2 separate regions of the Homo sapiens genome follow, and region 2 is linked to region 1. Evidence: fine-mapped expression QTL. A gene starts in region 1. The other region holds a variant in brackets. All regions are shown on one strand. Distances are from middle to middle. Region 1 holds the start of GZMH (granzyme H). Region 2 has its middle 45 kb from the start of GZMB.

The links.
Region 2: its variant is fine-mapped to the expression of GZMH in whole blood (TOPMed, PIP 0.93).

What each region holds. Positions count from the first base shown.
Region 1 is chr14:24,606,749-24,612,130 of GRCh38, forward strand. GZMH (granzyme H) reads right to left here and starts at 2,937. Exons shown (of 5, transcript NM_033423.5): 1 at 2,811-2,937; 2 at 1,517-1,664; 3 at 864-999; 4 at 401-658. The coding sequence starts at 2,865.
Region 2 is chr14:24,676,778-24,682,159 of GRCh38, forward strand. No RefSeq gene overlaps it. Among named protein-coding and RNA genes, the nearest start is that of GZMB, 45 kb to the left of the region's middle. RefSeq lists a silencer at 2,240-2,419. The variant A/C (reference allele first, on the strand shown) is at 2,874.

The DNA of each region.
Region 1 (5,382 bases):
GTGAACAGAGAGAGGAAAGACTGAGCTAGTGTTCCCTGGGATGGGTGGTCTCTGTTATGGATTTTGTGTGACATCAGTGCCAGGCAGGCCTTGTCACTCACCTCCCTCAGTCCTGGGTCTCCAGCATGGCCCTGGCTGTGCTTTCTGGCTCTCCCCAGACCAAGCCTTTCTCTGCAATTCTCACGGACACTTTGGTGATAAGTGACTGTCGGATGACAGATCCTTCCCCTCCAGCCACCCCAGTCCACCCAAGGAGTGGACTAAAGACTAGATTCCAGGGGGACACAGGCTGCCCAAGCTCTGGGCTGAGAGCATAAAGATCTGGCCACTGTCATACCCCAGAACTCCCTCAAGTTCCTCTCTCCCTGTGGTCTTTCTGGGTAGAGGCTGGAAACCCAACCTTGAAACCGGTCTGTGTCTTCTTTGGATCCCCCACACAAATCTCAGTGGCTCTGCTGTAATTGCCATGGAAGAGACGTTCACACTGGCAGTCCTTCTGCACTGTCAGCAACACTTCCTGCAGTGTGGTTGCTAAAGTGCTCATTGAGACATAACCCCAGCCAGCCACACTGCACAGCTGCCCTGGCTTCACCTGGGCCTTGCTGCTAGGTAGCCTGAGAGGCCGCACAGCTGTGGTCCACTTGGCCTTTCTCTCCAGCTGGTGGGGAAGAAGCAAGAAAGTCCAGGTCAGGCAATGGCCTTCTGGGCCCCGACACAGTGATGGGGCTGCACAATCTTCCCTCTCCTCTAAGGCACAGGAACTGACCAAGAGGTCAGGATGGAAAGGAGGAAAGGGCCGGCATCCCAGTGGGAGTGGAACCAACTGGACCAAGAAGAGCAAGAGTGGCAGGAGTGTGCCTCACCTGCAGTAGCATGATGTCGTTGGAGAAGTTCTTAGGATTATAGGCTGGATGGGGGATGGGTCTTTTCACAGGGATAAACTGCTGGGTCCGCTCCTGTTCCTTGATATTGTGGGCCCCCAAGGTGACATTTATGGAGCTGCACAGAGAGCAGAGTGAGGATGGGGGTGGAGTCACAGGGGATAGAGCCCAGGAGCAGTGAAGAGCAGATGACAGCTGTGGCAGGGTAGGGCTGCAGCTGAGGGGAAGTTGAAGGGACAGGAGGGCTCCAGGGCTGAGTGACTGTGCCCTCTACTTCACAAAGACATGAAGAGTAGGGCTTCTGGGGGCTCTCTCTTGCCTTCAGGAAATATCATGAAATTGCTCGAGTTTGCATTTTGATCCTTAATGCATGGATTCAACCTTTACTACTGCCTTATTGGGCCAGTGTGTGAAACCATGCCACTTGCTCTGACCTCTGACCCTCTGACCCTCTGACCCTGTCCTATTTCTCAGCCTTTCATCATCTTAGTCCTATTCCCAGGTGGCTGCTCCGATGAGCTTTCATGGGCTTGTGTTACCAGGAACTCTGGAAGCTCCCCTGGGCTGCAGTCCCCAGGAGAAAACAAGGGTCCCTGTAGGGGGAACTCAGGAGGTGAGCTGGTGCTGCTCCTTACCTTCCCTGGCAGTGAGCAGCTGTCAGCACAAAGTCCTTTCTCACTAGGATGCCGCCACACCTCTTCCGACTCTTCTCTTGCAGAAACTGAACAAAGGCCATGTAGGGGCGGGAGTGGGGCTTGGCCTCATGGCCCCCGATGATCTCCTCTGAAAGGAAAGACTGGAAGATAAAGTAGCTGGGGATGGCTGCAGTCAGGAGAGAAGGCTTAGGACGACAGTGATTGAGGGTGAAGTGTTTTGTGTGCTGCAGACAGTGAGGGAGGGGTCCTCCTGAGCTCTGCAGGCAGTACTCCTTGCAGGCAGAGCAAGCTTTTCTGAACTTTAAGTCTCAGAACCTTCTCTCAGAAAGAATGGACAGTGCTTGACTTCTGCATCCTACTGCAGAAACACACATGGAGGAAGAAAGATCTATTTTCACAGTGGTAGAGCCCCAGAGGATCCTGGACAGGACTTCCCAGGCTCCTCCTTTTTAGTGAGTCTCTCTGATTCCTCTGAGCCTCTGCTGTCCTCCTGATTGGTGCCATTTTCTAATGATCTACCCATGAGCTTCTGGAGTTGGATTTTCTAAAATTCTCATGTGCCAGGGCTGAACACATTCTAGGTTCTCAGTAAGTGTTGTTTGGTGCATAAATGAATAGCCTCCAATTAGCCTTTGGCTGAGGTTTAGTGGGGGTAGTGCTGGTGGGATTCAGGACCTCAGGGATGTTAGAGGGGGTTATCACCAGGTCAGTGGAGTAGCTGAGGGCCTGCAAAGGCAGAAGGAAGTGGAGAAATCAACTAAAAATGAATCGCAAAGCCCAGGTGGAGCCAAGGTAATGGGAGAGCTATGGACACAGTCATCTTGCCATCTCTGAGATCAGTTGCACCATGGGCTTCCCTCCTGGCAGGGGTGACTGGGTGGGGGCACTGAATAAGTGGTTCTTAAGCTGAGTCCAGTAACAACTCCTATGACTGCAACTTGGTGTCTGAGCTCCTCTTTCCTGGGTTGGAGTGTAGAGTAATAATTACTTATCTTTTTTAGCTTCACATTCCCTACCAAATGCCTTTCTAAGAACAATCCACACTCCAGGTCATAAAGGAGAGGTCTAGGGAGAGGCTAACACCCATTAAACCTTTTAGGGAACACCCTTCATTTTTCGATCTTTGCTGAGTGTCTATCTAGCCTCAGATTTATAAGTCTGGGTGTGGAATGGGAGGTGGGCTCAGATTGAGGAAAATTCCTGACCAGTGCTCATGGGTACAGGGTATCTTATAAGATGGGTTCAGGCCTCTGGAATAGGGATAGTCACTTACCTGTCCCAGCCCCAGGGGTCAGAAGAAAGGCCAACAGGAGGAGGAATGGCTGCATTTTCTCAGGAAGGCTGCCCAGGTCAGAGCTGTTGGTGTTGACTCCTTCCAGAAACAAATGCTGGAGGGAGATGAAGGAGGGATGGGTACAGTAAACTCAGAGACCTCCTAGACTTGTCCCCTTCTGGTTTTGATGGGTGTCATTATAGAAGGTGGTTTATTAAAATTATCTGGTTTGGTTTAAGTTGACATGGCACTGTCACATTTACACCCCTGCTGCTGAGTAACAAGGTGAAAGCAAGAATAAAGAACAAGGAGGTGGAGCTGTTGAAGCTGTGGCTGCAGCTAGCAGAAAGGCTGGTACTGCAGAAGCTCCTCAGTGACTGAGAACCAAGAATGTCTCCTTTTCTCAGTTCTTGGCTCTTTTTCTACTCAGATAAAATCATGAATAATTATTTAGCAAGCCAGATCCAGGGATATGAGAGACATGGCTCTTGCCCTTGAAGAATTGATGGTTAGCAAGAGTAGACTGAAAATCTGGGGTTAGAGCACAAGATGGTAAGGGCCGTGGTGGGGAAATCTGCCTGTTGGTGTGAGACGGAGGCTGGACTTGCCTTAGCAGTATGCAGAGTTGCACACACCCAACAAATACTGCAAATGGCAACCCATTCCTATCTTACCACTATCTCAGATTCATATTTTTGGGATATTTAGAATCCCCTCTTTAAATATAAATATTCTGTGACAAAGATAACTTTTTTTATTCCACAGTTCTGCACAAAAGTTCTGGACTTGATATTTATTGAACCAAAATGAGTCATCATTGGGTCCACTGAAGTGTAGTGGACTGATTGCTTTATGCTTTGGTTATTTAGCCCTCCTTAAGCTGAGGTGGGGACTGTTCCACTCCATCTATGGTGCTTATGAATGAGGAGGGGATTTCCCTTGAGAAATGCTAGTTGTTGTTGCCAGGTGATGGAAAAATGGATGCTGATCATCCTGATAATAATTGTTCACTAAGGCCGGGCGCGGTGGCTCATGCCTGTAATCCTAGCACTTTGGGAGGCCAAGACGGGTGGATCACGAGGTCAGGAGATCGAGACCATCCTGGTTAACATGGTGAAACCCCATCTCTACTAAAAATACAAAAAATTAGCCGGGCGTGGTGGCGGGCTCCTGTAGTTCCAGCTACTTGGGAGGCGGAGGCAGGAGAATGGCGTCAACCCAGGTGGAGCTTGCAGTGAGCTGAGATCGCGCCACTGCACTCCAGCCTGGGTGACAGAGCGAGACTCCATCTCAAAAACAAACAAACAAACAAACAAAAAACTGTCCACTAAGTATTCTCTCAGTTTCCAGAGAGCCATGTCTCTGATGTCCCTTGGCTCACAGTCATAGGCTGTCCATAAACAAAAATGTGTATATATACATATGTTTGTATATTTATGTATATGAATATATATAAATATATATGTATAGTTAAGTAGGAACATGTAAATGATAAAATTAAACTTACCAAAAATTCTACCACCGGAGATCATTATTAATGCTTAAGCATGTTTCCTTCTACTATTTTTCTAGGTATTTATAAGGTGCTATTCCTGCTATTACTTTAACAGAACTGGGATAGGACTTTAGGTGATAGACTTTTTTGTGATGAATTTTCCAGGTGTTCTTTGAGCTTCTTGTATTTGGATGTCTAGGTATCTAGCAAGGACAGGGGAGTTTTCTTCAATTATTTCCTCAAATAAGGTTTTCAAGCTTTTAGATTTCTCTTCTTCCTCAGGAACACCAATTATTCTTAGGTTTGACTGTTTAACATAATCCCACATTTCTTGGAGGCTTTGTTCATTTTTTAAAAATTATTTTTTCTTAGTCTTTGTTTGATTGGGTTAATTTGAAAGCATTGTCTTTGCGCTCTGAAGTTTTTTCTTCCGCTTGTTCTAGTCTAGTGTTGAAACTTTCCAGTGGATTTTGTATTTCTCTAAGCATGGCTTTCATTTCCAGAAGTTGTGATTATTTTTTCTTTATGATATCTATTTCTCTGGGGAATTTTTCACCCATATCCTATATTTATGTATATATATATTTTTTAATTTTTAAAGTTGTTTTTTCACCTTTCTCTGGTATCTCCTTGAGTAGCTTAATGATCTTCTGGATTGTTTATCTGGCAATTCAGAGATTTCTTCTTGGTTTGGATCCATTGCTGGGGAGCTAGTGTGATCTTTTGGAGGTGATATAGAACTCTGTTTTATCATATTACCAGAATTACCTTTCTAGTTCCTTATCATTTGGGTAGACTATTTCAGTGGAAAGGTCTGGAACTCAAGTCCTGCTGTTCAGATTCTATTATCCCATGGGGTGATCCTTTGATGTGGTGCTCTCCCCCTTCCCCTAGGGATGGGACTTTCTGACCACTGGACTGCATTGGCTGTTACTGCTTTTCTGGGTCTAGCCTCCCAGTGGCGCTACCAGGTTCCAGCTGGTGCTGGGGAATGTCTGCAAAGAGTCCTGTGATGTGATCTCTCTTCAGGTCTCCCAGCCATGGATACCATTACCTGCTCTGGTGGAGGTGGAAGGG
Region 2 (5,382 bases), 70 kb after region 1:
TAATCTACAGAATTTTTTCATATTTTTCCAATTTTTCTAATAATGTCCCTTATAGCAATAGAAAATTCGAGATCATGCATAGCACTTTGTTGTCTTTCTTTCTTTAGTTTCCTTTAATCTGGAGCAGTTTCTGAGTCTTTCTATGTATTTCATGGCTTTGACAGTTTTTAAGAGGACAGGCAGTTGTTTTGTAGATGGTCCTCAGTTTGGGTTTGTCTGATGTTCCACATGATCACATGCAGATTATGGACTTTTGGCAGGGATCTCACAGAAGCAATGCTGAGTTTTTGCATCACATCAGGAGGCTCTGCTGTCAACGAGTTTCATTATTGGAAGTGTCACATTCCATCAACTGGTTAAAATTAAACCTGCTTGGTTTCTCCAGTAAGTTAGTACATTTACCAATTTACCTTTTGTAATCAATTAAGTATCTTGTGGGGAGATACTCCTTAAATGTTCTCCTACTAGTTGCAATCGTCTTGCCTAAAAGAATTATTATTAGGATGACTGACAAATTATTTTCTGATTTTGTCATTCTTTCTACATTTATTATTATCTGACTTTCTTCTGTAAAGAAAAGCCTTCCCTTCTCTCCTACTTACTGTTTATACATTCATTTATTTATATCAGTGTGGACTTTGGAATTCTTACTTTATTCAATAGGTTATAATGCTATTATTTATTTTGATGCTCAAATTGTCCCGTGTTTGAGGAAGTAGTTGATTTTAATTTTCAGGTGTTTGGCTTAGACAACTGATTGAGTGAGCCTGCTTTTAACTGAAATAAGAAACCAAGGAGGAGGAGAAATATGTTTCCACTTGTTGCTTTACTTTGCATCCTTTGACTACTTGTAAACTTTAATTCACATGTATTTATCTCCTTTTGTGAATCATTTATTCATATCCTGTGTCCATTTCCCTATTTGTTTTCAGAATCTTTTATTGTTTAAGGATATCAGTTTTTCTCTGACGTGAACATTACAAATTGCTTATTGAGAGGATACAATGAACTAGAAGTTTTACCAACAATCTTATTTAACCCTCACAACAATCCTCTGACATAGTACTATTATTATTTTCATTTTATAGATGAGAAGGCAAGAGGTCTTAGAAATATTGCTCCAAATCATGGGCTAGCAACCACTGAAAGCCAGGATTTAAACCCATATCTGTGATACCAAAACTTTGATTCTTCATCTATAATTTTGCATGCTGCAGGCATGCAAAACTTTTTTAATGTTTTAAGAATGCTGGGAAATTGAATGTCATCCCCACAGCCCTTTTAAAGTTGTAGCCACAAAACCAGTTATTGTAATTACATCTTAAATGCAGATTTATTGTATCTAGCATGTCAGTACAAGTTGTATCATCATACTTATGCCATAGCAGCATTCCACATTCGTACTTGACAGTTCATTTGGGACTCAGCAAAATAAATATGTGAAGTAAGTGGGTGCTCACATTAAGGCTTGTTGAGAATGATGTGACATCTAGGAGACACCTGGTAAGGTTCATACACTTTGTGAAGATGACATGGTAGGGAAATGAAGACCACTGACTGAGAGCACAGCAACCCTGGGAGGCCTCCAAACTTAACTCCAGGAAGCACCTCAGCCTTTTATCTGGGAAACAGAAAGTTCAATAAAAATGGTCTTTGGGCAGGACGTGGTGGCTCACACCTGTAATCCCAGCACTTTGGGAGGCCAAGGCAGGTTTATTTCTTGAGCCCAGGAGCTCCAGACCAGCCTGGGAAATATGGTGAAACTCCTTCTCTACAAAAAATACAAAAATTAGGCGTGATGTTGTGCACCTGTAATCCCAGCTACTCGGGGGGCTGAGGCGGGAGGATCGCTTGATCCTCCCAGGGTGGTCGGGGTGAGCTGTGATCACGCCACTGCACTCCAGCCCGGGTGTCACAGCGAGACCCAGTTTAAAGAAAAAAATAAAAAGTCTCTGAGGCCCTTTCTGTCCCTGACTTTCTGGAATTCTCCCATTCTTCTATAATAGGCACTTCTTGGTTTCCCTCATTTTTGCTTACTTTATTTTTCTTTCTCTTTCTCCTTGACGTGTCCTCTCTCCTTAACTTCTTTTTTCTCCTCTGATGTGCCTTAAATTTGCCAGGGGCTCCCTTTGGAAAAACCCTGCCTGGCCCTATTATCCCCCTGATCAAAATGGTCACACGTTGGTGGCCTGGGGGCTGCCCTCCTTGACTCATAATGCCGGGACCCCTGATTTACACAGCAGGAGAGGGAGTGATCTGCGAACTCCTGAATTGCCGCCTTTCAGTTCCTGCGGCTGCTCTGACTGTCTGCATTGCGCCCTCTAGTGTCCAGACTGAGTTCTTTTACTGTCTAGACTGGGGAGTCCAGAGCAGATTCTTTTACCCGCCACGTGAGGGAGCAATTCAGGGAAAGTAAAACTATTAGTAAAAGACATTATTTTATTTTCAAATAATCGTAATTTTACCGAGTTCCTAGAAAAATGCACATTCTTAAAATTTATATTGTAAAACTTGTTGAATAGACGATCAATTAGAATATGGGAAGAAAGGTTTGGTTTCTAAAATATTAATAAGCATATTTGACATAGCAACCCAGGGAAAGCATCTAGTCACTTATTCCTTGTGTTCATACAGTCCTGTCCTTTACAGATCCCCAAGAGTGTGCATGTGTTTGATCTAAGTTTAGCCCCGAAATAGCTGGAAGGAGCTATCTCTAGCCCTGACATTTCCATGAAGCTCCAGATGGCCCGCTCAACTCTCCACATGTACCGACAGACAAAACAAATGCAATTGTGTGCAAAGCAGAACTCTAGATTCCTCCTCTCCCGACCCTGCTCCACCCCATTCCCCCTTGGCACCGCCAGCCACTTATT[A/C]CCATAGGCCCAAAGCCTAGGAGTCATTCTTGACCTTTCTCTTTCCCGCACCTTGCAGCCAGTTCACTGGTCATTCCTGTTAGCTCCACTTTCAAAATATATTCCAAATATAACCACTTCTTGGCACGGACACCGCTACCATCTTAGTCCAAGTCCTCATTATCTTTCTTTTGATGACAGCAGTAACATTCTAAGTGGTCTGCGTCGTTCTCCCCTCCCCTTGCCCTCACTTGCTTCACTTAAACAACCACAGCGATCTTAGAAAAATGTATCACATCTGTGTTCAGAACCCTCCAATGACTTCCTGTCTCATTTAGAATTAAACTGCAAAGTCTTTCCCATGGCCTACTCTCTGACCTTGCCCTCCTCCACTCTTCCCACCCCTCACTCCTTTCCACCTGCAGGAATGTCCTTTCTGAAATGCTCTATTCCCAGATCTTTATTTTCTCCTTTGCTTTCTTCAGGTCTCTACTCGAATGCCAACCCCTCAGAAAAGACTCTCTTAGCCACCCTGTCACGGGTAGCCACCTCCACACTCTCTGGTCCCATATCCTGATGTATTTTTCTTTCAGCATTTACCCCTGAGAGAAGATTCCCTGTCTCTGTGTGTTCATACTCTGCCCTCCCCTGACTAAGATGTAACTAAGATGTCAGATTCATGGCCAGATCATTTGTTTTGTTCCTTGCTGAATCCTCAGCTTTAAGCATATAGTGGCCATTCATTGATGGATGAAGGAATAAATAAATTATTAGTTTGAACCTTGTGAAATTGTTGACATTCTAAAAATTCTGGGCCACAAAAATAGCAATTCCAATAGTTCATCTTCATAATATAATATCGTTAGCATTTTATACCTAGGAAAACTGAAACTCAATGAGTCAAGTGACTTCCCCAAGTGAAATAAAGAAAGAATGAGAGGCAGACTGAGAGCACTTCATTTCGTTCATGCAACACTGAATTGTGTTCTGGACACTGCTAGGTGTGGGAGCCACTGAGGAGAAGGGCCTGCCCCATCTCCTAACTCAGCCACTCTGCCTTTGTGGCTAAAGGATCTCTTGCCAGCTCTGACTGGCGGAATGGGCAGGGCTACGTGTGAACCCAGAGCAGCCACCACCTCTCTGCAGAAGGGCCAGTGTCAGGGCAGTGTGGACTGATCCCCACTGCTTCTGTGACCTCTGGCACTCAGGGCTCCTGCCTGGTGGGCCTCGACCCTATTCCTTCTGTCTCAGAGGAAATGTAGAAAAATGTAGAACTGCTTCTGCATAGTGCCACTCCTCTGTCTATCCCCAATCTCCTCTTCAACATTGTGAAGCTGGAAATGACGCACATAGGGCACCCTCTTGACTGCTACTCCCCATGCATTTCTGACCCTCATAAGAGAGGCTGGATGGGAAACCACACTGATCCTCCAATACTTCTATGCTCAATAAGCCATCTGTGAGTTGGAAAGGAATTCAGAAATGGGGAAGGGGGCAGGTCGACCTATTTTGCTTTCACAGCAAAGGGTGTGTAGCATCAGGGTGACATTCAGGGCTGATTATTAGGTTGGTGCAAAAGTTATTGTGGTTTTTGCCATTACTTTTGCACCAACCTAAAAAATGTGTCAAATTTTTCTTCCCCAGACAGCTGGCCCTCTGAGTCACAGTGGGAGCAGTATGTAACAGGAGGGGAGAAGAAAATGAAAAAGCCACACAACTGTCTCTTTCTTTGAGCCCTTTTCCAAGCTCTCCTTAAATTTTCAGTTTCTCCTCTTGGTCATTCTCCCCAACAAGTGCTTTGTTTCAGAATTATTAATAACTGGAAAAGTTCTGTTTTTTTTCTCTTTAACTGGCATTTTGCTTATCCTGTGGCTTATTGAGCCCTAGGGAATTTATGCCCTATAAATAAATGACTATTATTATTATGTAGCTGTATTCAGAGCATTAGTTGAAAGGGAGAAGTGACATTTTTCTTTATTTGCTTTAGAAATGTGTTGTAGTCACAATAGCTCTCCTCCTGCCTGGGATTAATGGCATAATTATTCACACCGGGCAACAGAGATGGAATGAGTTTGAACTTGGCATGAATTAATACACCAAAATATGCCTCTTGTTCTTGCTCACTGCCTAATTAATTCTGAATTATGAAATTCTCTGTGAGCTACCCAAAAAGCATGGTCACCGGATTCTGGTGCAATTGTTCTTTCTTTGCACTAAAAATCAAGTGATTTGATAGTTATGGGCTGTTTGGAAAGAGAATGTCCATTTGAATATCCTAGGAAGGAAGGAACAGACCTCATAAGGGATTTTTCTAGAGGTTTTATAGTAAATAACCTGTGTATGATGGACATGCAAGGGCCCCCAGGGGAGACTGAGCTTTGCATGAACCAGCTTTACTGCTAGAGAAATAGAGGACTTAGGAGTACTGTGCCTTGATGTCTAGAATTTACACTATAGAAGGCCATGCCTTTGGATTAGGATATTTTGTTCAGAGGTTCCCAGTTAAATATGAATGAGTTGTCCATGGAGA